Regions from separate parts of the Homo sapiens genome. Here region 1 is linked to region 2. The links come from fine-mapping of genetic effects on gene expression. A gene starts in region 2. The other region holds a variant in brackets. All regions are shown on one strand. Distances are between the middles of the regions.

Region 1 (12,699 bases), 32 kb before region 2:
CTGACTTTGGTAAAAAGAAAACAAGAAAAGAAGAAAGAAAGCGAGCGAGGGAAATTCTCCAACCAGGTGGCAATGATGTGAGCCGATCTGACACAGGTTTTGGGGATAGAATGGACCTCACTCCAAACAGAGAATTAAAAATTAAACCATGCATCTACCTGGGACTTTGGATGGGCCCCTCGGTAAGTGAGGGGGCTAGAAAAATTAAACTCACCAGCCCAAGAAAGTGACAAGCTTTCTCTACACAAAGCTCTAGGTAGAAAATAAAGCAAAAATACTGCTGAGAAGTCCAAATTCTAGACTAAAGTGGGTATGGCATTCTAGTCCACACAATCTGTGTATTATGGGAGTCACCAAGAACTTTAGATGATAGACTCTGAAACAGACTACAAACTAAGTATGTTTATAATAAAGAAATATAGAAAGAGAAACAAAAGTCATGAGAAGAGAACAGGTCATTATTTAAAAAAGAACAGAAACTTAAAAAATGAAATACGTGGTTATTAAAATTTAAACTAAGAGGATGGGTTAAAAACAGAAGAATAAAGAAAATAAACTGGAAGATACTTATGAACAAATTATCTAGAAAGAAGCACATAGAAACAGAAAATACAGAATTCAGTAAAGACACATGTAAGACAGAATGAAAAACATCTGTCTTATGGGAATTCCAAAAGGAATAAATGAAACATTTGAAAATAATGGCTAATTACTTTTAGCATGGATGAAAGACATGAACCTTCAGTTCAGAGCAAAAAATACAAATAAACTCCAAATATATAGTAAAACTACAAAACCCTAAAGACAAACAGAAAACTTTAAAGGAACCTGACAAAAGACAGACTGTCTATAAAAAATAATTAGACTGACAGAATATTTCTCATGAGCAACATTAGAAGCCAGTAGCACGGGGGTTAGCAAACTTCTGTAAAAGGCCAGAGAATAAATACATTAAGCTTTATGAGCCACATGTTGTCTACACAACTAGTCAACTCTGCCATTGTAGCACAGTAACAACCAGAGACAATATCGGCACAAATGAGCATGAATGTATTCCCACAAAATTTTACTTACATACACTGAAAGTTGACTTATGTATAATTTTCATGTGCCATGTAATTTTTAAAAAATGTTTAAAATGTAAACTACATATAAAGTTTAATGTAAAATGTGTGTGTGTATATGTGTATGTATGTGTGTGTGTATATATATATATATATATCCCTAGCTCATTCACAGTCCATACAAAATAGTCAATGGGCTGAATTTAGTCTACGGCCCATAGTTTTCTAACTACTAGAATAGTGTTTTAAAAATATAAAAGGAAAAAATAACCATTAACCTAGACTGATAAACCTAAACAATCACTTTAAAATGAAGATAAAATAAAGACAATTTCATACAAAGACTGAAAGAATTCAAAGAATCTTGTAGAAAGAACTAGGAGATGGTATATTCTGAGAAGAATAAAATCAGAAAGAAGTGGAATACAAGATTAAATGCTGGGAAATAAGAAGGTAAACATGAAGGTATATCTACAAAAGCATTGATGGCAAAAAGTAAGAAGGATAATACATTTTTCCTAAAAAAAAAAAAAAAAAAAAACAAACAAAAAAAACACACACAGAGATGAACTGAATTGCCAGACAACAGAAATGTAAGAGAGAAGGATGGTGATCAGAAGCAAAGTATTCTAGCATGTTTGTACTTTTGAGCAAAGGCAACAGATGATTAAACCAATGATTCATTTGGTAAATCAATTGTTTACAGTAACACATTTAAGGAAAATCACTTCAAAGAAACATCTTTTTAATATTTATTTATTTTGTTAGGTGGCTTTATGAAAGTGATATAAAATCTTCTCTATTTAAATTTTGAAAAGTGAGATAAAATATCTAAATAATATGGTTAATAAAGAGTTATGGCAAATACATTGATGTTGGTTATAACTGACTGCAGTTCTAGAAATCTGCATAAATCTTTTGTTGAAAGTAATATCTGCATTGGTAGACGTGATATTACTACATACATAAATATATATTTTCCCCAAACACCAAAAGAGCTTTGCAACTGTGGAAATTATCCTAACAAATGAGCTGCCAAGTCATGTCATTATACATTTGTCCAACCTCATAGAATGTACACCAAGAGTGAACCCTAATATAAACTATGAACTTTGGGTGATAATGATGTGTCAATGTAGGTTCAAGATTGTAACAAATGTACTGCTCTGGTGGAGGATATTTTTAAGAGTTGGAGGCTGTTAGAGGAGGGAAGAGGTACAATAATTGATAGCAGGAAGCTGTGGAGGGAGGAAATCTCTGTGTCTTCCACTTAATTTTGTTGTGAACCTAAAACTTCTCTAAAAATGTCTATTAAAAAAAATTCTCTTAACCTTTGCTTTTCAGTTTTTGAGGGCAGGTTAAGTATTATAACAGCTAACATCTACTGAGCATTTGTCTTTAATCCTAGTGAAACAGATGTTATTAGCCTTGTTTTATAGTTGAGGACATTGAGGCTAAGAAAATTTAACTAGAGTAATTAAGGCACACACAGAATTTAAACATGTTTCTTATCACAAGACTGAGTTGTTTTCCAGTTACTCTATTTATATTTTTTCCTAATATCTGGCTTCAAAGTACCTTCTGTTATTTTTAATTCCAAGCCTTAGAGTTAATTATTTGGGCACCTTAGAATTATTTGGGCACAACTGTCCCGAAACCAGAAACGAGGGGGCGTGGACCCAGAGACTACTAGAATGCAATGCTCGAGGCATTGCAGCCTAAAAGGGCGGCAGCTCGCCCCGTCGCATGCTGGGAATGGTAGTTTCCTCGCTCTCCCTTCTTCCCCCGCCCTCGAGCATCCAGATTGGAGCTCCGTTCTTACTCCCTTGCAGGGCGCCACGGCTCGACAGAGCCACTCGTCCTCGCCTGGTCATCCCAGTTCCGGAGGCTGACCTGGGGATGCGCCCTGGACGCCCTGCACCGCAGTCCTTGCGTCGCTGCTAGTCAGCACGGCGTTACCCACCTCATCCGCAGCTCCAGGACGCCGCACTCCACGCGCTGCCGCAAGGAGGACGCGCAGCCTGGTCACCATGGAAACGGTGCCGCCTCCGTCACGGCTCAAGCGAGAGGTCAAAGGTCAGTCCTGCAAGTTCCGCTTCCGGTTCCGAGATCCTGTTTGTTTTCTGAAAGCTTTGTGGTTTCGGTGAGCTCTCAGAGCCGATTTCTAGCGTCCGTGCCGGGGACAGGTGTCCAGAGGTCGACTGCTGCAGACATGGCGGCCTCCACCGCGGCCGGGAAGCAGCGGATTCCCAAAGTGGCCAAGGTAGGCGATCGCGAGGGGCCTTGTAGGAGGTGGCCTAGGAAAGGGGCATCCCTCAGCCCTGAGGGTGCCCGGGTTGGGAGAGAGTGTTCCCGCCGGGGAGAAGGCTCACCCTGAGAGATGGAGAGGAAGGGCAGCTGGTGGTGGGGCGCGGGCTCTTGTCATCGCGGAGCACGACCCGCGTTGGCGTGGCCTTCGTTCTGGGGTGGTTTTGCTGGGGAGTGGAGTGGGGTGGTTCGGTGAAGATTTACTGAGCCAGGCACTGCACTGGGCGCTGGGAAGCTACGCTCGTACGCTGGCCACAAGCAGTACTCAAAACACGAGTTTCTGTATAAAGACGACCTTGCTAGATGTTACCGAGAGGCAAAGTAGAATATGCCATGGGCGTGAATAAGGGGGTCGTATGAAGGGGTCCTGAAAGTAAATTTTGCTGAGGAAATGACCTTTAAGCTGAGACTTGAAGGCTGAATAGGAGTTAGCCCAGCTGACAGCGGAGGGCGAGAGTAGACGGTAGGAGTAGTATAGTATCATAAGTTAATTAAACAGTAGACTTACTATCTGGTATTTCCTTTGATAGCTAATACTTACCAAGTGCTTAATATGTGGCAGACTTTGAAGCCTTTACAGATACCCTCCCTCCAGTCTTTCTTGAGCCCGGATGACTCTCTTGAACTGGACCTTTACATAACTATTTGTCTGACTCGCAGGAGTAATGCATATAGAGCAAGTAACACTGTGTCTGGCACTTAGTGCTTATTAAATATGAGCTATCACCATTATCATCATTACTCCACATGTGGCATTAAGTAACATTTTTTATAATTCAGCTACATAAACTTTTATTGGGCATCACTGGTCCAATGGAAATATAATGCACACCACATATGAAATTTTAAATTTTCTCATATCTACATTAAAAAGTAAAAACAAAGCAAAAAAGTGAAATTAATTTTGATAATATATATTTTATTTGAGCTAATGTATCCAAAATATTATCATTTCAACATGTAATCGGTATAAAAAATGTAATGAGGTAGTTTATTCTTTTTTATACTTCATCTTCAAAACCAATGTGTATTTTACACTTACAGTCCACCTCAATTTGTACTCACCACATGTGACTCATAGCTACTGTGTTGGACAGCACAGCTCTAAGCTACGTTAGACTGTAAGCTTCTAAGACCTCAAGAAGCTTACAGTCTAATGATGAGAACTTACTGAAATTGCCTTTGACTTGAAGTGCCATGTAAAACCAAACCCAGTTATACACCGGGGCATTAAATAAGTTGAAGAATTCTGTAAATGCAGGTTGTAATGCTGTTAATAAGATGTGCTACACATTTTGATAAAACAAAACCTCTGGTCAGAATTTTACCTAGACGGCCTCAAAGTTTATTATTATACTCATCTAAAAGGGAAAACTTGCTATTATTTTTGCCACCTTTTTCTCTTGAGACTTTTACCTATGGCTTTGCAGTAGATACTATGAATAAGAGAGAAAACGGTATTTTTTTTTTCTTTTCAGTCTCATGGAGGAATGGGAACATGTCATACAAAAAGGGCATCTTGTGATAATACTAACAAAGTTCATATCCTAAAAAATGTATGTTTGTTTCTTAAGCCTTGTGTGAAGAGCAACTACTAAAAATAGAAATGTCTTCTTTCTTAAAAGGTGAAAAACAAAGCCCCGGCTGAGGTACAGATAACTGCTGAACAACTCTTAAGAGAGGCTAAAGAAAGAGAACTTGAGCTTCTTCCACCTCCACCTCAACAGAAGATCACAGATGAAGAAGAATTAAATGATTATAAACTAAGGAAAAGGAAGGTCAGTCAGTGTGGTATCTTTCAGTCCACTAATTGTTAAGACTGTATCGGTCAGTTTGAAAAGCTCCTCATTGGTTGGATTCTGTAGGGCAAGATGAGGTTAAGTGTTTCCAGAC[G/A]CATGAATAATGTACTTCTGGTTACCAGATAACAGCATTTTTCTGAACTATATAAAATATGCCATGAGTTGTCTGGTTAAAGTGTAAAGAAATTGAATCTGCATAATTTTTGATGCTGAATCAAAGTGAGCGGAAGTTTAGCAGATGGAACAACTGACAACAAGAAGGAGGGTATGCTTAGTAAGGCTGCACTGTGTACTTCTGTCTATACCACCTTCTGTGTTAAGAATTGAGATCTGGCTGGGCACAGTGGCTCGCGCCTGTAATCCCAACACTTTGGGAGGCCGAGGCGGGCAGATCACCTGAGGTCAGGAGTTTGAGACCAGCCTAGCCAACATGGTGAAACCCCATCTCTACTAAAATACAAAAATTAGCCAGGCGTGGTGGCAGGTGCCTGTAATCCCAGCTATTCGGGAGGCTGAGACATGAGAATCACAGCAACTCGGGAGGCAGAGGCTGCAGTGAGCCGAGATCGTGCCACTGCACTCCAGCCTGGGCGACAGAGCAAGACTTTGTCTCAAAAAAAAAAAAAGAAAGAAAGAAAGAAAGGAAAAGGAATTGAGGTCTGCAAAAGGACCATGAGAAGACTTTGGGATCTGATTTGACCTCTTCACTCTAGAATGTGGGACTGTTTTAAAGCACTAATGCTGTTATATATGAAATTCTGAGAATTACCAGAGGACTTAAAGGTAATAGTCAAAAACATTTTTTATTAGGGACAAGCATAGACCATTTTAAAGTATCAGTTAGTTGACTGTAACCTTCTGTAGTGGGTTTCTTATTCCTCAAGGATTCCAGGATGTAATTTCTCTTAAATATGAACAAAATGAATAACCATTTTAGTACAAGACTTAAAATAGACCAAGGGTGCTGTCATTTTTAGTCATTTGTCTTTTGACTTGACCCTTTTTGCCTTCTTCCAGACTTTTGAAGATAATATAAGAAAAAACAGGACTGTGATTAGTAACTGGATAAAATACGCACAATGGGAAGAAAGCCTAAAGGAGATTCAAAGGTAAAATTACTGAGAGTGTAGTTTTGTATATAATGATTCATAGATTAACAGATACCAAAAAGAAAAGAAGAAAAAGTTAAAGCACAGGTAAAAGATTGTGCCTCGGGTAGAAATTTTCAACTTTGGTTCCATGGAACCCTAGGGTTCCCTTGAGGGCCTCAGGAGTACTGGGGTAGAATAGTCCTGGGGAGGGTGGCAGAAGAGGCTTTAGAGATAGATCTTGTCAGTTGTAGCTAAAGAAGCACAATTTCATTTGCTTTGTATATATTGAGATTTTTACAAATTTCAGCTAAACAATGGCCAAAAAAAATAAAACCAATGGCCAAAAAAAATAAAAATTGCAATCTGGCCCTTCCTGTGGTCTAGCTTTCTGCATTCTCCCCGCATACCTCCTTCCCCCACTGTGCCTGTGTATGTGCCACTCCCTGAATATATCATGTCTCCTTATCGTGAGGCTTGACTGTTCTCCTTGCCTGGAATGAGCACCCCCTCCTCACCAAACTTAGTTTCCTGGTAAATCGGAACGTTCCTCAAGTTCTCATTTCTACAATTACCTACTACTTAGCCTTTTCCACCAAACATTTTCATTTCTTCCTCTCTGTTTCCCGTGCAGATCTTGACTATAACATAAATCACATTGCATTATAATTGCATGCATGTCTTTTTATAAGACTTTGTAAGGTACTTGAGAGCATTATATCTTTTCATTTTTTTATGCCCAGAACTTGGCTCATGGTAGACACCTAATAAAACATCAGTGCATTCCAGATAGTTTGAAATAACTGCTACATGTGTTGAATGCTCTATTTTTGATGCCCTGCAAATCTTGCTTCTTAAGGGCTCGATCCATATACGAGCGTGCTTTAGATGTAGACTACCGAAATATTACACTCTGGCTGAAATACGCAGAAATGGAAATGAAGAATCGCCAAGTCAACCATGCTCGAAATATCTGGGACCGGGCCATAACAACGCTGCCTCGAGTTAATCAGTTCTGGTAAGTTTCTGATCTAACAAAACAGCCTTTTATAGACTAGCAAAGTTCCACATCTTCTGTATTTATTTTATTTACATGATGATAGTTTAATTTGATATCCTACTTTTTCTTCAGACATAAATGCTGTTATGTCCCATAGTCTATTAAGTCATAATCGTAATGTTCTATAGCTATGTAATCAAAACTAAAATTTTGATTGCAATCTTTTATTCATAAGCTTCTTGTTGAACTAGGCAACTTTTAAGAAAAAAAAATCTTTTTTTCCAATGGTTCATCCTTTTTCAGATTTACATACAAATGACAAAACATGTTTGATTTAACCTTTAAGAAAGGTAAAATCTTCAATCTTCTTCCCATTCAACAATGGAAGAACTAAACCACAGCAGATATTTTCGGGTGATTTTGTTACAGGTACAAGTACACGTACATGGAGGAAATGTTGGGAAACGTTGCCGGTGCCCGGCAGGTGTTTGAGCGCTGGATGGAGTGGCAGCCTGAGGAGCAAGCCTGGCACTCCTACATCAACTTTGAGCTGAGATACAAAGAGGTGGATCGGGCCCGCACCATTTATGAGCGATATATCCTTTGGACGAGATCTGTATGGTGCCATGATTGTCCTGGATGCTGCTGCTGCTCCTGTAGAGATGTCTCATGATCAGGACACACAGTCATTAATGTCAGGCTCAAAGTCAAGAATGCCAGTTTATCAGCTTCCCTATGTTTTGTAGGGAAAGAGATTGGTCAGAATGAAAATTTGTATTCTGGGTAACTAGTCTTTTCTAGTGAGAGTTTGGGTTTATTTTATTGTAATGCTAAAAGCTAATGTTTCCTTGTGGAAAATGATATTCCTGGGGGATTGTTTCCAGGAACTCAAGGGGATACCAAAATCGGTGATGCTTAAGTCCCTCATATAAAATGATGTAGTATTTGCATGTAACCTATGCATAGCCTCCCATATAATTCAAATAATCTCTAGATTACTTATACCTAATGCAATGTAAATGTTATATAAATAATTGTTATTCTGTATATTTTAAGGAATAATAAGCAAAAAAACGACATGTTCAATACAGAAGCACTTTTTTCTCACGAATACTTTATCTCAGGTTGGTTGAATCCACAGATATGGAACCCATGGCTGGAGGACTAACTGTACTAAGGTCCTGGCTGCCATTGCCAGTCCTGTTTTTCTAAGGTTTGTGTTGGTCATTACTACCTTACTGGAGTTCATCCAAGGTTTACTGTTTACTAGCTGTGTGGCTCCAGAGAGTCATTTAACTCCTTTGAGAGTTGGTGTCCTCTTCTTAAAAACAAGAATAAAAACACCTTTGTTGGGCTGTTGCGAAGATTAAATGATACACATGAAAGCACTTTTAGAAACTGAAGTACAGTCATTCCTCACTATTTGCAGATTCCATGTTTGCAAAATCACGTATTTGCTAAAATTTATTTGTAACCCCCAAAATCAGTAATTGTGGCACTTTCACAGTCATTTGTGGACATGCACAGAGCATGAAGTCCAACAAGGTGAGGCTTGCCTTCTGGTCTTAACCTCATATAACCATGCCTAGAGCTTGGAGACAGGAAGGGCCAGTGCCATGTAGTGCAAGGAGCTGTGGCTCTGGGGCCAGTCGGGGAGTTTGAATCCCTGTCAGTGGGGCAGCCTCAGTCCAGTCACTTAACATTTCTGAACCACTTTTCTTACAAAATAATGAAGATAGAATCTGCCAGGATGAGTTCTTTTTAGGATTTAAGATGATGATGAATGTGAGATTGTATATATACACGTTTCTCCTAGGAGCAGTGGTTCAGTACTCAATAATTAAGTGTTCGCATTGACTAAATAGAACATAACTACCAGAAATAATGAGAGTCAACTTTATTATGCAGTATTAAGATCTTTTTATTTTTTTACTCTTCTCTGTTGAGGTGACAATGTTAAGATCTTAATTATGTCTACTAATTTTAATATTATTAGTTTGACGAAAGCTTTTATAGCACTTGCTACGTGCCAGGCAGTATTCTAAGTACTTTACAGATATTGTTGTTTAATCCTCATAACATCCTTGCAGTGTAGGAACTTCTCTGTCCTACAGATGAGGGAGCTGAGGCATGAGAGATTAAGTAGCTTGACTGGGTTCTCACAGGTGCTGATGGAAATAGAATGTGAACCTAGTAGAGCAGCTTCAGAACTGATGCTCTTCTTTGCCATATTGGAATATATTACTACTTTGGAAATTAATGATTTATTCAAGGAAGATAGATTAAAATGACAATTCAAAACTTTCTGCTTTGACTCTAGTTAACAGTTTTCTTTTTATAGCATGTTTTTTTCTTAATTATTAGTTCAAGTATTCATATTTTAATATAATTGGTGCTATTTAATGACCAGACCATTATTGACCGCTTACGGTGCCATGTTCTTTTGGCTAGAAACTGTGCTAAGGGCTTTACATACATTTTCTCATTTAAAGCTGGCAGTAATCCAGTGAGGCTGGCATTATTTTTCCCTGTTTACAAATGAAACAGCTGAGACTTAGACGTCTAAGTTCAGTGACTTATCCAAGATCACATGGTTGGTAACCTGGGTTGAGATTTTTCTTTGCTTCCAACTCGAGTTTATACCCACCACTAAAATCTTAACTAAGCACTGGAGGAAAATAGAGATGAACAGGCGTGGCCCTGCTCTCACAGAAGCCACTGTTTAATTCTACACTTTTGTATGTGTTTTGTTCCCCTAGAGTTGTAGTTTGAATTTTTGGAGTTTCCAGGCTTTGGTATGGTTTTGGTGTTTACTTACTTACTATTTTTTTAAGCCATGCTGTTTTGCCTGGGATTTCCTTAATTCCCTTGCACTTGTCCTCGTGCACCCTGATGTTAAGAACTGGATCAAGTATGCCCGCTTTGAAGAAAAACATGCTTATTTTGCCCATGCACGGAAAGTGTATGAGAGAGCTGTGGAATTCTTTGGAGATGAACATATGGATGAGCACCTTTATGTTGCCTTTGCCAAGTTTGAAGAAAATCAGAAAGAGGTAAGTATACCTAACTTCATTATACTGTAAAACAGCTTAGCAAAGATTACATTTTGTGCATGGTGAGTTCATTTCCATTTTTTCTTACTGACATATCCCTGGAAAGATGTTTTCAAAATACAAAAACACAGCTTCTCACAGAGAACAGCATATATATGTGACTAAGCTACAGATGGGAGCTGATTATAGATTGTATTATAACTGTCTTAATTTTATTGTGCTTTGTTTGAAAATTAAGCCTTTTAGTCTGAATGCCCGTAAACTGAGAACTAGTCTTTTGGCATCCTAAGTAAAGGACTTAACCGATAATAAATATGGGAAACAAAAAGCTTAAAGCCCTAGAACAGAAAACATTTAGAATGGAAACAGAGATTGCCCTACAAATAAGAGAGTTCTTTTTTTCCCTTGTACCTATGAAAATAGCTCAAATATTGAGAAGATGAGGCAGAAGGATCACTTGAGGCCAGGAGTTTGAGACCAGCCTGGGCAACATAGTGAGACCCTGTCTCTAAAAAAAAAAATTGAGTGGGCATAGTGGTGCACACCTACAGTCCCAGCTACTTGGGAAGCTGAGGCAGGAGTATCACTTGAGCCTAGGAGTTTGAGACTACAATGAGCTATGTTCGTGCCATTGCACTCTAGCCTGGGTGACAGAGCAGGACCCCATTTCTTAAAAAAAAAGGGAGTTCAAATAATACAGAATTGAGATCCATCCAAATACAGGTTTGAGCATTCCCAGTCTGAAAATCCAAAACTCAAAATGTGAAACTTGTTGAGTGCTGACATGACACTCGAAGGAAATGTTCATTGGAACATTTCAGACTTCGGGTTTTTGGATTAGGGATGCTGAACCAGTAAGTATAATGCAAATATTCCCAAACTGGGGAAACATCCCAAATCCAAAACACTTCTGATACCAAATGCTTCAGACAAGAGATACTCAACCTATATAAGGTCTTGCACGGACCATGCTAGGGAGTTCAGATTCTGTTCGGGCCAGTGGGAAGCATTGAAAGGTTTTAAGCGGGACAGTGATTGGATATGATTTATATTTTAAGGAGAGCCTCTGGCTAATTCATGGAGAATGTATGAGGGTAGATGGCAAAAGTGGAACCAGGGGAGACCAGTGGGGAGACTTTTGAAGTGGGCCAGGTGAACAGTGGAGTTTGATGGCTGGGGGCTGGGGAGAAGCAAATGGCTGTGTGGAAGAGATTGAAATGGTAGGGCATGTTGCAAGAGTGAATATGGAGTATGAGGAAAAAAGAGGAATTGAGGATCACCTGAAGGTTTTGGCTTGAGCAAGTGACTGTAGGTTAGGCCTTGCCTACTAAAATTGGGAAGATGGGGAGAGTCCCAGTTTGAGTGGGGAGGAAACAGAAGCTCAGTTTTGGACCTGTTTGAGATGTGCAGTAGACATCCAGTTGGCAGTGTTAGGTAGACAGTATTAAATATGGAGCTCAAAGCAGAGTACCGGTCCATCCTGACAGAGATAACCTTCAACAAGAGGGAGAAAAGCATCTTACTCTGGATATTATGAGGCCTCAAAATCTAACTTATAAGTAATATTTTGTTATATTTACTCTCCTAGTTGTGACTGGCATGAGAATATTGTGTTATAGAAGGTAATCATCCTGTCTGCATTTAGTTTGAAAGGGTACGAGTGATTTACAAGTATGCCCTGGACAGAATTTCAAAACAAGATGCCCAAGAACTCTTTAAAAATTATACCATCTTTGAGAAGAAGTTTGGTGATAGGCGGGGTATTGAAGATATCATTGTGAGCAAACGGAGATTCCAGTACGAAGAAGAAGTGAAGGTGAGCACTGGTGTGGATGGTCAACTCTGCAGATAACCCAAGATGTGCTCATCAATACTAGCAACACTAAAATGAATAATAGCAAGTAGCACTACTAGTGATTACTCTCGTGATGATGTGCCCGTGATCCAATTGGCAGCTATTTCAGACAAGTAGGAATAAACAAGGCTGATAGAAAAGGCAAGCAAACAACACTTGGATTTGCTCTGCCACTTACATGTTGTAAGTCGTTTTGTTGATTGTTGACTGTATGTAGAACTGGAGCAAAAGAAATGTGGAATCCATTCGAGCTCATTGTTGGAAGAAGGTGGAAGAGTCAGAGATTGGTCCAAAAACCTGTTTTGCACATCACCTTTGAGCTTAACTGCCTGAACAAAAGATGTATGCTAGACAGGGTTCCATCGGCATCTCTTTTTCTGTAATGTACTATTTTGATTTCAATTCAAAGAGAGTGTCATTTTCCTTCAGTATTCTGTTGTGTATTTAAAAATACTCTTCCTTAGTCAAGTTAATTAAGATACCTCCAAGCAAAGGACTAAGTCTGTTATTAAATGTGGTGGTAGGTTAGCAAG
Region 2 (17,296 bases):
GTTCTGCCTCCGGGGTTCAAGTGATTCTCCCGCCTCAGCTTCCTGAGTAGCTGGGATTATAGGCACGCGATACCACGCCCAGCTAATTTTTTGTATTTTTAGTAGAGGCAGGCTTTCACCATTTGGCCAGGCCGATCTTGAACTCCTGACCTCAAAGGATCTGCCTGCCTTGGCCTTCCAAAGTGTTGGGATTACAGGCGTGAGCCACTGTACCTGGCCTTAGAATGAAAGATTTTTTTTTTTTTTAGAATGAAAGATTTAAGAAGACTAAGACCATGTCTGTCTGGTTCACTGCCGTTATCGCCTGGGCCTAGCACAGTGCCCAAAACAGAGATCAGTAAGTTCTTGAATTGTTGAAGAGGAAATAAAATTACAAGCATCATTATATTCCAATTCTGCAGTCTAAAGCAATCAGTTGAAATCTATATTAAAATCTTTACCTACTCCACAAAATACTAGTGGTATTATACTTACTATAACCCATTAATTCTCCACCAGGTGCCTCTGCAACAATGAAATACTCTGGCCAGTGGGCGAGGTATTGTAGGTAGAAAGGAATCCCATACTAGAGTCCTGTTAAGGAGTGTGAAAAGTAATGGACAGTAAAAAGTTCTTCATTAAGGGATATTGTAAAAAAAGTTTCCTTTAAAAAGTATACTGTTACTTTATCCCCAGCTCTGTATGAGTCCTATAATCATACATACCATTACATGAAATATTTAGGTTATCACTGATTTTTAACAAAATTGCCTGGACATATAGCCTCAAGTGTGGAATGGTGATAGCACTGTCTAATAGAAAGCAGAGAATCAGGACCCCAAAGTTCTACAGTCTACTTCCCTACTGACCATACCATATCTAAGTCTCTCCATTTATCACCTGATATTGTTTGTTTGCGGTCTGCCTCCTCTTAGTCTATGAATATCATGTTCCCTCTGTCCCTGGTGCCTGGTACACAGTAGATGCTTAATACACTGATGCTTACATAATTGCACTGAAAAATTAATGGGTAGTTCCTACTTTGACTTCAGCTATGAGACTGTGAAAATAACTTTACAACCTAAGTCCTTCCAGAGCCAACTTAATTACCCAGTTTTTCCTCTCCACTGATTCAAATCCTGCATTTCTAGTAATGCAGATAAAAGCTGACTTAAGGAATCAACTATGTTAACAGTAAATGCCTGAATAATTTGCTCATGACTTCACTCTTCAACCTTGGGATATCCTTACTGACATGTAATCATTCCTACATTTCTCTTCTTCTTTTTACTCTGTACTTTAATGGATGAAAATATATTTCTTGTTAGTATAAACTTTCTGATGCAATTTATCAGAGGACACCATCAATCACACATAAATATATTTTTTAAGTTCCTGGAAAACCTGTTCCGTGCGAAATTCTTCAAAATCTCCTCTGAAGGACCATCATTATTTTGAATACCCCTCAAATACAACCCTTAACATGGCAGGACAGCCAGTCTTCCTGCCAGCCAGCCACTGACATATACCACAACCATCTCTTCTGTGGCTAACAGAGGAGTCCCAGACACCCCTCCCTCCCATCGACCTCTAGGACCTAACAGGTTACTTTCAAATATAGGCTCACCTGGATTATGGGACTTTCACTGCAAATTTTAAATGTCACTGGAAGCACACCATATAAACGGATTTGCATCCTAAAATCCTTCCTTCCTATATAGTGAAACTTTTGTCATTCAAAATTCTTCAAAAATCTTAAAAGTGGTGATATCATTAGTCGTAATTTAAAAAATCCAGATGAACCTGCAGAGATTTTTTGCTTTTCCCATTCAGTTTTGTTTCTGATATGTAGTCCTGTTGCTGCCTGCACCTGTAAGTTAATTTTTACTGCTGTATAGTATTTCTTTATGTGAAGAGACACCTTAAATAGCCTGTATCCTGACAATGGACACCTGGGTCATTTCCTGTTTCTCAAAAAAATGTTTGAAATCCTTCTTCAGTACAGCTTAATTTACTTAACCATCTCCTGATTGTTGTGTGTGAATCTTATTCCAAATGCTTAGTAACTCTCCTGCAATAAATAATGTTTGTAATGGTATAACTCAGGGGTTAGCAAACTTTTTCTGTAAAAGGCCAAATAGTTAACATCCTAGGCTTTGTGGGCCATACAGTCCCTGCTGAACTACTCAAACTGCAAAAGCCACAGAAAAAAATATAAATTAATCAGCGTGGTGTCCCAATAACATTTTATTTACAAAAACAGGCAGTGGGCCAGATTTGGCCTATGGGCCTTATTTTGTCAACCACTGACAAACTGCCTCTATTTCTTCTTATTTTCAGCTTTCAGGAAATGGAATTACTATTTCCAAAGTGCCTTCTGGAAAGATAATAGCAATTTATATTGTCACTAGCAATTTATGAGAATGTTCCTCTCACCTCACCATCATCAGCACTGAGGTTTATCATTTTTTAAAATCTTGGCTGATACATAAAATATGGCATCTCATTTTGGTTTTAGTTTACATGTCTTTTGACTGATGAGACTGAACTCTTAACACGTTCATTAAGCTCCTATATGCCCTCTTTTGATAAATTACCGGTTAGCAGAACCCTCCTACCCACCTACAGTAGATACAGAGCATAACACAGAATCCGAACTTTGTGTTGTAAGCCACTAGAGATGTGGGGTTATCTGTTACAGCAGCATAACCACAGTATCCTATCTTCACATCTTTGCCCCATTTTTCCATTAGGACAATAATAGACACTGTTCATTGTTACCTCAAAGCCTTCACTTTAGTAACAAGTCCCAATTTATAAAGCAGGGCACATTTCTGGACTCTAGATAGGATTCAGTAGACAGGTGAAGCATGAAACAGGTGCTGGTCAATGAGACAGAGCGGGCCTGTGTGGCATTTCCCAAAGGTACTCTCCTTTTTTTTTTTTTTTTGAGACGGAGTCTCGCTCTACATGTAGCCCAGGCTGGAGTGCAGTGGCGCGATCTCGGCTCACTGCAACCTCGGCTCACTGCAACCTCTGCCTCCCGGGTCCTGGTTCAAGCGATTCTCCTGCCTCAGCCTCCTAAGTAGCTGGGATTACGGAGTGAGCCACCACGGCTGGCTAGTTCTTGTATTTTTACTAGAGACGGACGGGGTTTCACCATGTTGGCCAGGCTGGTCTTGAACGCCTGACCTCGTGATCTGCCTGCCTTGGCCCCCCAAAGTGCTGGGAGTACAGGCCCAAAGGTACTCTTAAAAGGGAAGAACACCCTCACCTCCCCCTCTGCTGTTTCTGCTGCCGGAAACATGGCTGTGATGCTGTTTGCTGTGGCAACATCTGGAACAAGGTTACGGCCACCCTGGGAGGGGTAGAGTGCTTAAACTGCAAAGAGCCTGGCTGTTGGTGTCTTCATGGAAGCATCACCTGCCTGGGACTGCTTATCTCCAGACTTTGTTCACACTGGAGACTATGCAGCCACCTTGCTGAAGTCACTGTGCTTTCTGGTGAATACAGCCATGCTGACTCCTGAGGGGCAAGGTTGGCAGGGGAGCTATGATGTTACAGATTTCTACCAAGTCATGATATTAACAGTTTGTCAGCAGATCTAAGACAACTCTTGTTCTCAGTTTCACTTTTTAAAATTGCTTTCAGTGTTGCTTATGATGTTTCCTGACCTACAAGTTTTTAAACTTTTCAGTACTCCTCTGTTTTCCTTTCATTTCTGTTTTCTTTATTCTCAGTAAATCTTCATTCAACTTTTTTTTTTTTGTAAAAAAGGATACAGTTTCTGTAAGTGGATCCAAGTTACTGAAAGAAACAAGAGAAATGTCTCTAGTAAGCAGCGTTTACAATAACCAGTTGAAATAAGCCTGCTAAAGCTAACAGTAATATGCCACAAGGAAAACAAAACATGTTTCATCAACAACTTTAAGGCCAACTTTAGGGCTGAGGCAGATGATTTAATCTACCTAATAGCCATAATAAGCTGTCACAGCCACTATTAAGGTGTTTACATATTTTTTCACTTAACTGCTACTTGCTTCTTTAAAATTCAAGTTAATAAATCTACATCTTGTGTTTTCTAAGTGGCAATAAATTGCTAATGGAACTGGAGACCAACTAGGGATGTATCTCGCAGAGACAGAAGGTCAAACTCGCCCGCTGCAGCATCCAACCCCATGGATCCTCCCCGCCTGTGTCTGGGTCTTCCCTGACAATTGCTCCTTTATTCCACCCTCTAAATGTGGTCACTCCCACCACTCGGTTTTTGCTCCCCACTCCTATTCTACACTCCCACCTCCCTGTCCCCACCATCCCCATTCCTATGTGTTCAATCACGTGTTCTTAGTGGATGCCTCCCAACCTGGCTCCGATGCTGTGGGCAGCTCACCAGCACATCCCAGCACACCATTCCCAAATCTGCATTCTGAAAACCCATCTCCATCCCCTCACTTCCCTAGTCAATTAATGGAGCCACTATTTTGTCAGGTTCAAAACCAGCTACTTTTCAACTGTTCTCTTCTGATTTCTAGTCAAATTCTCCTTTGAGACCCATAACAATGCTAGTCATATCATATTTCTGTAGTCCAGCAGTTCTTAAACTGTTTGGTTTCAGAACTCCTTTACGCTAAAAAGTTACTGAAGACTCCAAAGAACTTTTGTTTATACGCGTAATATCTACTGAGATTTAAAAATTTTAAATATTCACTCAAAAATAATAAATCAATTACACGTTAACACAAATACCTTTACCAAAAAAATCACTATACTTCCGAAAACAAAACAAAACAAAATCCAGTGACAACAATGGCATTGTTTTAACAATTCTGCAACGTCCTGCTTAAAAGACAACGGGATTCTCAAGCATTTGTTATGCTTGCTGCTGAAAGATCACACCTTGGGAAGCTCCACTGTCTACTTGTGAGGGAATGACAGTGGAAAAGATGAAAAACCTTCTTAATACATCATGAAGATAGCTCTAACCTCACACAACACCTGAAACAATCTTGGGGACCCCAAACCCTGGCCCACTCCTTGAGAATCACTGCTCTAATACAGTGCAGGGAGTCACTCCACCACACCTTTCGACGACTGAACTGCTTTATCTCCTCTTGTCTGCCCACCCGCACCCTCACCTCCAGCCCCGCCATCTCAGGGGCTTCCTATTTCATCACTAAGAAGAGAAAACAGGAAGAAGTCTTTGCCAAAGTCCCCCCCCCCCCCCGCCCACCGAACCCACGCACACAGGCATCTGCACCCATATGCTACTTGCTCTCCTGTCAATAGGCACGGAGTGCGGGCGAGAGACCCCCTCAGTACTCGGGACCCTCCTCCTGCAATTCTCTTTCCCTCCTGCATCTGCATCTTCAATTTCTCTTTCCTGGAAGAAATGTACAAATATGATGTGCACTGAGCCATCAGCTCCTCTTGAACAGCTTCCCACTCCTGGGACAGCCTGAAATGCTGTCTTCACTCAGCTTCTGAGACCATGGGGTTCTCCTCTCACCTCACTGAGCCACACGGTCTCCTTTACTTGAACACTTGATGCCCTAAGGCGCCATCTTACAAACTCTTAGCCTTTTTTTCTACACTTGTGCTGACCCCCAAATTTCCATCTTTAGCTCAGACCTAATCTTGAGACGCCCATGCCCAGATGCCTTCCTGGCCCCTCCACCTGGGTTTCTTGGTGCACTTGGCAGAGAAGTTCAGGTCTTATGATGGCCTCTCCAGGCCCTGCCCTTCTAACTCTCTGCTGTTATCCCCTTACCCTCCCATGCTCACTCTGTACCAGCCATGCGGCCTGCCTCCTATTTGAAACAGGGGTGTCTTCACTTACTGTTCCCTCTATCTGGAAGCTCCCCTGGCCCCCAGTGTTCATGTAACTCATTCCTAACTTCCCCAGGTCTTTCTTCAAGGGCAGTCTCCCTGAACCCCCAAACTAAAGCTGAATCCCCACTCACTTCCAGCTTTCCTTCCCTGCTTCTATTTTCCTTTGTAACTGAACACTAAGTTCCACATGACTCCCCGCACTGTGATTCCCAAGGTGTGGGCCAGGATTTGAGGGGGTCCCCAAAATTGTTTCAGGTGTTCTATGAAGTCACAGCTACTTTATGATACATTAAGGTGTTTAGAGGGGAAAATCTACATTCTATAAAGACACCTTTTTGTTTATGTCTTGTTCACTGCTGTGTCTCTAGAACTGGCACACAGTAGGCACTCAAATATTTTTCCAAGAATAAAATATGTGTTAAATTAATTGCAGTGTTCTACATCCATGGATTATTTCAATTCCAACTGCATCATCTAATCTGAGTCATTCTCAGAGTTTTCTACCAAAATGCCCTAATCAAAGAGGCAAGTAAATACAAAAAAATGGGAACCAGGTGTGGTGGCTCACACTTGTAATTCCAGCACTTTGGAAGGATTAGGTGGGAGAATCACTTGAGCCTGGGAGTTCCAGACCAGCCCGGGTAACAAAACAAGACCCTGTCTCCACAAAAAAATTTAAAAATTAGTGGGGTGTGGCAGCACGTGCCTGTAGTCCCAACTACTCGGGAGGCTGAGGCAGGAGGATTGCCTGGGCCTGGGAGCTTGAGACTAAAGCGACCTAGGATTGTGCCACTGCACTCCTGTCTGGGCAACAGAGCGAGACCCTGTCTCAAAAAATAAAAGAAAATGGGGAATAAGTGGAGTTCCCCTACTGGCACCTTCTGAAGAGGCCACATGATTCTCTGAAATCTAATATTTTCTTGCAAGTGTTCCTGTGTATTTTCTTTCTATTCATTTCCATGTAAAACTGTTGTCCTTTCCTAGATCTTCAGTTAAAACTGATTCTCCATGAGGCTCTGCCTTTTCTTGAAGCTTCAAGGCACCCTGTCACCTCCCATGCTGCACCTCCCAAACTGAAGCCTCTGTCAAGTCATCGTCTCTGGGCCACTGCCAAGGCCTCCTGAATGGCTTACCTGCCCAGTTTACCTGCTGTCATCACATGACAGCCCACAGAGCTCAGTGGTTAAGAATTTGAATCCATCACCTGGATTCTACAGTGAACACTTTGCTACACTGGCTTCATCATTTCTCTCTGCCCACCTATCAATCCTAGATCCACTTTTAAAAACAACAGGGCAGTAAGTGAAAACGAAAAACCAAGTGGTTCCGATTCAAGGGTCAGGAGGATAGAAAGGACTATGGGATGAGATGGCTGGGAACACTTTAAAGAGAGGGTGAGCCTCTCCAGAGGCTCCAGGTGGGTTAAGACCCACTCCAGAGCAGTGGATCGCAAACGGAATGTGCGTTTCTAACATGGTCCCCTGACCACAGGCACCAAGTCTTTCAGAACCACTGCTCCAGAGCCAATATCCTTGGATGAAGTTCCTCGCTTTACTCATTCTCACCTGGGCCAATTCACTTGTGCTTGCCATGCCTTGGTTTACTCATACACAAAATGGGGGTGACAGCACCTCAAAGAATCGTGAGGATTAACTGGATTATTACGTGGGCACTCAGAACAATGCAGGGAACAGTGAGTTCAACACAAGTCACCGTAGCTACCAGACTGGCCCAACAGAAAATTCTTTCCACAGGATCAAGTCTAAACCCCTCCTGTTTCACCCATTTCTTCCTGACTGCTCAGTGGCAGAAACCAGCCACTAGATTCGCACTGATCCCAGTTGTCTGACCGCACTTCAAGTTTCCCCATTTTCATGCCCCGCTCCTTCTCCGGAACTTCCGTCTTCCTCACTTACCAATGTGTTATCCATCTTCAAGGCTCACCCCCTCTTTGAAATGTTCCCAGCCATCTTATCCCATAGTTCTTTCCATCTTCCTGACACTTGAATCGGAACCACTTTGTCCTTAGTTTTCACATACCGCCCTGTTGTTTTTTTAAAGTGGATCCAGGACTGATAGATGGGAAGGAAGGAGAGATACCAGCGTAGCAAAATGTTAACTGCAGAATCCAGGAAAAGTGTCTATAAAAGCACATGGTGAAATTCCTCCAACTTTTCTAAATGTGTGGGAATCTTCATAATAAAATGTTTTCTTAAAAAAAAAAAATTGGTACCTGCAAATCAGAGGTCTGGCCTTAACTCGAATCCAAAGAAACTGCATCCAGGGCTCTGGGCACAGCGAGCCTCCCCTAAGATCTGCCGTGACTCCTCACAGAGGAAAGGTGTGTACACCGGGGTGCGCAGCTACAGTAACTAAACTTGCAAACACTAACCATGACTGAGACAGCATCTGCTGCAGGGGACGCAGTGATCAGTGTCATTTCATTTGGATACAATTTAACCACGGCCACCAGGTGGGCTTCACGATGTACACATCCCAACAGCTGCTGACCAGCTTCCGATCCTCGCAAGCCCCCTCTGCGGCCTGGCCGTCGGCGGTGCCCTCTGCCCAGAAGAGGCGCGGCCCGGCCACGAACCAGCAAGCAGTAGGGCAGGGCGAGAAGCCCAGGTCGTGGGCTCCAGGCCGCGTCTCCAGCTCGCCCCATCACCCCAGCGCCTCCTGACAGCGACCACGAGCGGAGGCCCGAGCGCTGCCCCAGAACCTGCCAGCTCGCAGGGTCCAGAGACAAAGTTTGAGCACCTCGGCCAAGGTCGCCAAGGCCGGCGTGCGTCGACTCCAGGCCCACCTCTCCCTGGACCCTGTGGCCCCAGGGAGGCGCCCACGTTGGCCGGCGGGGGGTGGTTCTCGCGGGTCCCCGTCCGGGCTTGGGGTCCGGCCGGGAAGGCGCGGCTGGGGCCGGAGCTGGCGGGGCCGGGAAGCGAGGCCCGGCCAAGAGCGGCTGGCCCTAGGCGCGTGTCACTCACATGTTGTTGAAGCGGAACAGGTCGTCGCAGGTAAAGGCCCGTAGCGTGGTCATCGCGCCGCCGCCGCTTCCGAAGACCGTTCGCCAAGACCCCGCGCCCGCCCTGCCGGAAGTCTCCCGGAGCGTGGCCGCCGCGGAACCGAGCGAGACGGGGTACTGCTTCCGGGCTACGAGTTGCTGGGCAACGACAGCAGCAAAGCAGCTTCCTCTGGCGGCCGGCGGCGGGAATTGCCAGGTCGCTCCTGTAAGGCCTCCGGGGCTGTGGCTGCCCAGAACCTCGGAACCCCTCCCAGGCAGCGGCTGCAGAAAGCAGGCGGCGACACCTGGGAAGGAAAGAAGCTGCTGGTGATGCGGAAACCCAAGCAGAAGAGCGGAGTTCGCAGCCACCCGGTGCTGCAGAGTAAATGAGGAATGGGAGAATTTATGACCCAGAATCCCTTGTCCCAGTGTTGCGAGTTGCAGATGTCATCTTAAAATGTCAATACCACGTTTAAAAACAAAAAGAAGGCCGGGCGCGGTGGCTCACGCCTGTAATCCCAACACTGGGAGGCCAAGGCGGGCAGATCACTTGAGTTCAGCAGTTCGAGACCAACCTGGCCAACATGGCGAAACCCCCTCTCTACTAAAAAAAAAAAAAAAAGGAAAGAAATAAAAATTAGCTGGGCGTGGTGGCACGCGCCTCTAATCCCAGCTACTTGGAGGCTGAGGCAGGAGAATCGCTTGAACCCAGGAGGCGGAGGTTGCAGTGAGCCGAGATCTCGCCACTGCACTCCAGCCTGGGCGACAGAGCTAGACTTGGTCTCAAAAATAAATAATAAATAAATAAAAGCAAAACGAAATGTAAAATTGATTTTGATAGTACGCTTTATTTTACCCATTTATTTTTCCTATTTGGGAAAAATATTTTTCCCTGACCCCACTTTATTATACCCGAAATATCATTTCAACATGTAACCAATCAATACTCAACATGTAATCAATCAATAAAAAAAGGAATGTGATATGTTACATTCTTTTTTGCAAAGACTTTGAAATCCGGTGTGTATTTTACATTTGCAGTGCATTTCAATCTGAGAGAGCAGCTGTCATCGGAAATGCTTGTTCTCTATTTAGATTTCATCAATGTATGGTTAAAAAGCAGATTCTCATATCCAAGCGGTTCCAAATATACTGTTTTCAAATCGCTGAACCAAACATCAGTTTTTAAATTTAAAGTAGTTAAAATTAAAAGTTAAAAATTCCTTTATTCAGACCAGACACAGTGGCTCACACCTGTAATCCCAGCTACTTGGGAGGCTGAGGTGGGAGGATCATTTGAGCCCGGGAGGTAGAGGTTGCTCTGAGACATGATTGCACCACTGCACTCCAGCCTGGGTGACACACCAAGACCCTGTCTCAAAAAGATAAGATAAAGAGAGATAAAATACATAAAGCAAGCAGGAATGCTGAAATGTATTTACACATGAGTGTTAAACTGGTCAATATCCACAGAGCTGTAATCACTGTCTCTCCTGGGCACTGTATAACACTATGCATTTGTATTTTATGGACAAGAAAAATTTTCATTACTATCAATTTTCCTCAGCTTACAAATTTGTAAAATTTTGTATTGTCAAAGACAATAAAAAGCAGAGAAAACCTGGAAACGTGTACTAAACAGTAATCTTTTTCTGGCCATTTCAAAGTGTTTCATAATTTTTTGTGTGTGACATGAACTAATGTTGATTTGAATTTTGTTCCTTATGAAGTAGTGAAGGTTTTTATAATATTTTTGGCTCTGATTCATTGGTATTATAAACATTAGAAGTTTATAGCTACTTTATGTTTGTATCTAGGTAATGGTGGAATAAACATGATTTTGATTTTTAGAAAAAAACACTGTGGGTTTAACACAAAGGTAGCATTGGAACCCTGCAGAAACTGGATGCTGTAGGCCAGCAGTTTGCAAGCACCGATACGAATTATTATTCCGATTTTGAGGCACAGATCAGAAATATCCTATAGCTACGTGGCCATTCCAACACATGGGGTCAGGGGAACGTGCAGGGCAGTACAGAGAATATCCTGGATATTCACCAGCTGGTTCTCCCTTCTCTCCTGTTTGTCTACTTATTTTTAAACTGTTATCAGTTTCCATTGCTGATTGCCTCCTATGAATTAGCATCTCGAAGGGTGGCCAGTAAGTGCCTAGCAAATATTGATTAAATAGCTGAGTGAAAAAGTGGCACACAGGTTACCCAGAAGATAATGTCATCCTTGGTAGTTTACAAAGAGGGTATTCACATTCTCAACAAAGGTATTTCACCTCTCTTTGCCTCAGTTTCTGTAAAAGGTGCATAATCATAGCACCTACTTCATTGGATTATTATGAAGATTACATGAGTTAATATTTGTAAAGCAGTTATAACAGTGCTTGCCACATTTTAAGTGCCATATAAGTGTTTGTTAAGAAAAATAATGAAATTAAGTATCTTGCATTTTGAAGGATCAGAATCTGGAGATGTAGAGTTAGGAGAGGCACAGCCCTCAATCATAGACCTTAGCACAAATGGCTCTGGAGGGGTGATGTTTGCTCATAGTCCCCGATGAGCAGCTTAGAGGAGATGGGTGGGGCTTTGGAAGCCGCCTCCCTTTCCTCTTATTGTCTTGCTTCAACCAGAAAAGTCTACATGTTGACACACTTGTTTTATGGGTTTTAAAAATACCTTTTAGGGCTATTTACATTCTTAAAGACTTTTTAATAAAAAGGATATATGCACATTATTAAGAAATCAAAGACTTGTGGAAATGTACAAAGAATAAAGCAACAAATCATTGAAAATTTTGCCACCTGGGAATAAACCATGTTAACTCTCAGATAATTTCAGTCATCTCTCTATGTAGATTAAGGGGAGTGAGAAAGAGACTTTTACTTAAAAGGGATTCTAATTATATATGTTAATAGATTATGAAGTATAAGGTATTACTGTACTTGACTTTTTTCTTGAATTTAACAGAAGAAAAACAAATCAAATGAAAATGAAAGAGTGCCAGGCGCGGTGAGTCACGCCTGTAATCCCAGCACTTTGGGAGGCCGAGGCAGGTGGTTCACCTGAGTTCAGGAGTTTGAGACCAGCCTGGCCAACACGGTGAAACCCCATCTCTACTAAAAATACAAAAATTAGCCGGGCGTGGTGGTGGGCACCTGTAATCTCAGCTACTCGGAAGGCTGAGGCAGAAGAATCGCTTGAACCCAGGAGGCAGAGGTTGCAGTTTGCTGAGATTGCACCACTGCACTCCAGCCTGGGCGACAGAGGGAGACTCCATGTCAATAAATAAATAAATAAATAAATAGGCTGGGCGCGGTGGCTCACACCTGTAATCCCAATGCTTTGGGAGGCCGAGGCGGGTGGATCATAAGGTCAGGAGTTTGAGACCAGCCTGGCCAACATGGTGAAATCCCATCTCTACTAAAAATACAAAAAAAATTTAGCCAGGCATGGTGGCGGGCGCCTGTAATCCCAGCTACTTGTCAGGCTGAGGCAGGAGAATCGCTTGAACCCGGGAGGCAGAGGTTGCAGTGAGCCGAGACTGTACCACTGCACTCTAGCCTGGGTGACAGAGCAAGACTCTGTCTCAAAAAATTAAAAAATAATACAAAGAATAAATAAATAAATAAATATGAAAATAAAGAGATTGCTGAGCAGCACAAAATAAAAGCTCCTAAAAGTTTCCTGTAAAGTTTAAGATATGTATAGTATTATCTTATATATGTATTAAATGTAATTTCAATCTCCTAATGAGGATAATTAATGGTCAAAATCAGATTTTTTAATAGAAATTTCAATTTAGGGCACTATTTACTCTTTTTTTGTGTTGTTTTGTTTTTTGTTTTTTTGCTTTTTTGAGACAGGGTCTCGCTCTGTCTCCCAGGCTGGAGCGCTGGCAAGATCTCAGCTCAGTGGAACCTCTGCCTCCTGGGTTCAAGGGATTCTCCTGCCTCCGCCTCCTGAGTAGCTGGAACTATAGGTGTGCACCACCACACGAGGCCTTTTTTTTTTTTTGAGACAGAGTCTTGCTCTGTCGCCCAGGCTGGAGTGCAGTGGTGTGATCCCAGCTCACTGCAACCTCCGCCTCCTGAGTTCAAGCGATTCTCTGCCTCAGCCTCCTTAGTAGCTGGGATTACAGGTGCCCGCCACTATGCCTGGCTACTTTTTTTGCATTTTTAGTAGAGACGGGGTTTCACCATCTTGGCCAAGCTGGTCTTGAACTCCTGACCTTGTGATCCACCAGCCTTGGCCTCCCGGAGTGCTGGGATTACAGGCGTGAGCCACCGTGACTGGTCTTTTTCTTTCTTTCTTTTTCTTTCTTTCTTTTTTTTTTTTTTTTTGAGAGAGGGTCTCTCTCTGTTGCCCAGGCTGTAGTGAAGTGGCACCATCTCAGCTCACTGCAACCTCCACCTCCCAAGTTCAAGCGATTCTCGTGCCTCAGCTCCTGAGTAGCTGGGACTATAGGCGTGTGCCACCATTCTCTATAAAGCCACATCAGTTTTTCAACTATATATCACCTAGTTGTTTGGTTTTAAGTCTATGATTGAGTGGATGTAATTGTCATTCCTGTTTCTTCTTACAGCTTTTCCCTTTCCATTCTTCATTCTGATGCATGTATGGGTTGGCTGGGTTTCTCTGCTGAGCTTTTGTTTGTTTGACTTTGCTGTGCTTTGTTTTTCCTCGGGCTCATGGTGCTGGTGCTCTATTCACAGAGCGCCCTTGTCTCTTAGGATGCTCAAGTGGAATATTGGCTGGATATTCCTGGATCCCATGTTCTCTCCTCCAAGATTTTGTAAACATCATTACTCCATTGTTTTCTGGTGTTTAAAGTTTCTGGGGGAGAAGAATAAGGCCAGCATGAGTTTTTTTCCCCCTTGTATCAGCGACTTAATTTATGCTGGAGTCTAATTATAACATTTCTAGAAATATAATTATAACACTTTCAGAAATAAAACATTTTTAACAGTGCATGTGTTTTAAACCTAGTGAATCTGACAATTTCAGCAGTTTAACACTGAAATGTACTAAAAACTTCAAAACAGAATCACTCATACATAGCTGATGGGAATATAAAATGGTGCAGCCCCTCTGGAAAACAGTTTGGTAGTTTCTTTACAAATTGAACATGCAAACATGCAACTATCACTTAACCCAGCAATTGCATTCCTGGGCATTTACCCCAGGGAAACGAAAAGTTACGTTTTTATCAAAACATCTGTATGAATATTTAAGCCGGAATCAAAAGTCTGTGTACCCTGTGATTCCATTTACATGGACATTCTTTTTTTTTTTTTTTTTTTTTTTTTGAGACAGGGTCTCACTCTGTTGCCCAGGCTGGAGTGAAGTGGCACCATCTCGGCTCACTGCAACCTCCACCTCCCAGGTTCAAGCGATTCTCCTGCCTCAGCCTCCCGAGTAGCTGGGGCTATAGGTGTGTACCACCACACCTGGCTAATTTTTATATTTTTAGTAGAGATGGGGTTTTGACATATTGCCTAGGCTGGTCTCAAACTCCTGGCCTCAGGTGATCCATCCACCTCAGTCTTCCAAAATGCTGGGATTACAGGCATGAGTGAATGTGCCCAGCCATTTATATGACATTCTGAAAGGGCAGAATTATAGGAACAGAAGAAAACAGACCAATGTTTGCCCAGGCTGGGACTGATCATGGTGGTGGCTACATGACCAAATGAGTCTGTCAAAATACATCAAATGTGTACTAATATGAGTCAATTTTACTTTATCAAACTTATACCTTAATAAATCTGACTTTAAACAGAAGAATCACCAGCACTTTGGGAGGCTATGGTGGGAGGACTGCTTGAGGAGTTGGAGACCAGCCTGGGCAACAAAGCGAGACCCCATCTTTACAAAAAAACAAAAACAAAAAAAAAAAAAAAAAAAAGGAAGAAGAAGAAGAAGGAGAAGGAGAAGGAAAAGAAGAAGAAATAGCCAGGCATGGTGGTATGTGTCTGTAGTCCCAGCTACTTAGGAGGGTAAGGCCAGGGGGATCCCTTGAACCCAGGAGTTTGAGGCTCCAGTGAGCCATGATTGCACCACTGCACTCCAGCATGGTGTTTTTAAAAAAGAAAGGAAGGGAAGGGAAGAGAGGGGAGGGGAGAAAGGGAGAAGGAAAGCTGAGATTGTGCCACTGCACTCTAGCCTGGGCAACACAGTGAGACACCGTCTCAAAAAAAGAAAAAAGAAAAGAAAAAGGAAAAGAAACCAATAAGCAGCAGTATCAGCATATTTTTAGAAGTATGGAGATAAATAATGGTGGGAGGGGAGGGGAGGGGACAGAAGGAAGGAAGGAAGGAAAGAAGGAAGGATCAGCATAGTCTTTCCATTTTTGTCACCATCATTTTAAGAAGTATATTTGAAAAGCATGAACTACGTTAAACCCCACAGTTACTTGGGCTTCTAGGACATGCTGTTATTGACTTCTGTTTCAGTGCATTTGATTTTATTTTTAGCCGGCAGTAAAACACTGTTTCTATCCCGGCTGCACATTTTCCCCTACATTAAAGATGACTCATAGAACTCTTTATTTATCATTCTACACAGAGTAATTTCTTTTACTGCTTAGTTGGAAAAAACTACAAGCTTTTACCACATTTAATGGCAAACATTTTCCTGCTCATTGAAACAAAACACCATGTGCTCTCTGTAAACAGTGCTGACCCAGATTCACATCCATCATTGCAAAATTCCACATTGAAAACAAGCAAACAGCTTGATGGTTCATCTGTTGTTGCTCTGTTTCTTTTCTTTCAGATTATATGGAAAGGACAAAGTGCACAGTAAATATATATTTTGATATATCCTAGGCAGCATACTTTACAATTAAACAGCTTGGATGTTTGGATGACTTCATATAAGAAATTTTTTATATAAAATAATAACTGGATAAGATAGATGCATTGACTCTGGCCTATCATTGTAATAATCTATTTTCAGTTTTGCTAACTAGGATGTATAAGTTCATTCACCATTCAAATGTAAAACTACAGGTTTCTTTCTTTATTATTTTATTATTTATTTTTTTTCTTATTAAAACTACAGGTTTCAATTAAACAAGGCAGGCTGCATTACCTATCTTTCCCCTACCAATACCTCACTAAAATGAGAATTAAAGAAAATTTAAAAAGGAATTTTTAAAAGGGCATACATCCATAGGAACAAAAAGAATGGAAGAGGAGACAGCAGCCAATGGGAACTGGTAACAAAATTTTGCGGGCTTGAAAACTCAGCAGACAGGAGAAAGCTAGATGTTAACCAATGTCAGGCGGAAAAGCCAGCAGGAAGCAAGGCAATCGATTCCCTATGCAGCGTCTGAGCGGGCTCAGGAATGAGCTCTGGCAGGTGTGAGTGAAGGGAGAAGATGAGCGCCTCACTCCTGGAGAGACCCAGAAGCCATGTCCCTGAGCCGTCAGAGCACAGGCAGCGAAAAGTGACGTTGAGACACTGCATTGGAAATGGGAGGAGGTGAAAGCTGGCAGACGGAAAGCTGAAAACCCACAGGCTCCTTGCCTGCTTAGCTCCTAGAACGCTGGCAACAAAATTTAACCCCACTTTGCACCCGGCGCCCGTAGGATACTGGAGAATTTTCTTGTGGGGAAACCACCTGACCCAGGAGAAAAGCCCCACAGGCATTGACATATGACCAGGCTGCTACATGGTCACCCTAAGGAGAGGACCACCATACAAGAAGGTTCAATCCTCACCTTCCATGATATGGAATCAATTATTAATGTCTAATATTGAAAAAGAGGCCGGGCATGGTAGCTCACGCCTGTAATCCCAGCACTTTGGGAGGCAGAGGTGGGTGAATTACTTCAGGTCAGGAGTTCAAGACTAGCCTGGCCAACATGGTGAAACCCCTTCTCTACTAAAAATATAAAAATTAGCCGGGTGTGGTGGCACATGCCTGTAATCCCAGCTACTCAGGAGGCTGAGGCAGGAGAATTGCTTGAACCTGGGAGGTGGTTTGCAGTTAGCTGAGATCGTGCCGCTGCACTCCAGCCTGGGGGACAGAGTGAGACTCTGTCTCCAAAAAAAAAAAAAAGAAAGAAAGAAAAGAAAAAGAAACCAATAAGCAGCAGTATCAGCATCTTTTTAGAAGTATGGAGATAAATAATGAATACACAGCTGGAGACGTAGTTTAGGGGAGGAGATAACAGAAATGGGATTGGGAGGAGGCTCAGGGGCTGCTGCCTTCCATTGCAAGTCTTCCAATATTTGATTTTGAAAACCATGTATTGTGTTTATTCTTTTAAAATCCTCCTTCCCCTTGAAAAACATAAGGCAAAATCATGTGAGTAAACCAGTGTCATCTGGAAAAACAAATGAGGGCTCAGGATTGTCCACAATGGTTACCTGGAGAAATGAAAGAGTTCTGCGAAATTCACCATACTTTCCCTTTGAAATTGTCTGCTGGGGATTCCACAGGAGCTTTTTCCAGCGATGTTTTAAATCA

What was found.
Region 1: its variant is fine-mapped to the expression of NAA20 in whole blood (TOPMed, PIP 0.90).

What each region holds. Positions count from the first base shown.
Region 1 is chr20:20,042,920-20,055,618 of GRCh38, reverse strand. CRNKL1 (crooked neck pre-mRNA splicing factor 1) reads left to right here and starts at 3,153. Exons shown (of 14, transcript NM_001278628.2): 1 at 3,153-3,327; 2 at 4,997-5,149; 3 at 6,188-6,279; 4 at 7,118-7,276; 5 at 7,688-7,854; 6 at 10,133-10,311; 7 at 11,957-12,127. The coding sequence starts at 3,277. CFAP61 (cilia and flagella associated protein 61) reads right to left here and starts at 3,087. Exons shown (of 27, transcript NM_015585.4): 1 at 3,028-3,087. RefSeq lists a silencer at 2,679-2,728 and enhancers at 2,819-3,118, 3,129-3,298. The variant G/A (reference allele first, on the strand shown) is at 5,265.
Region 2 is chr20:20,008,946-20,026,241 of GRCh38, reverse strand. NAA20 (N-alpha-acetyltransferase 20, NatB catalytic subunit) reads right to left here and starts at 8,880. Exons shown (of 6, transcript NM_016100.5): 1 at 8,793-8,880; 2 at 3,762-3,786; 3 at 475-565. The coding sequence starts at 8,845. RefSeq lists enhancers at 6,418-7,617, 8,079-8,579, 9,194-9,373 and silencers at 8,634-8,753, 8,804-8,873.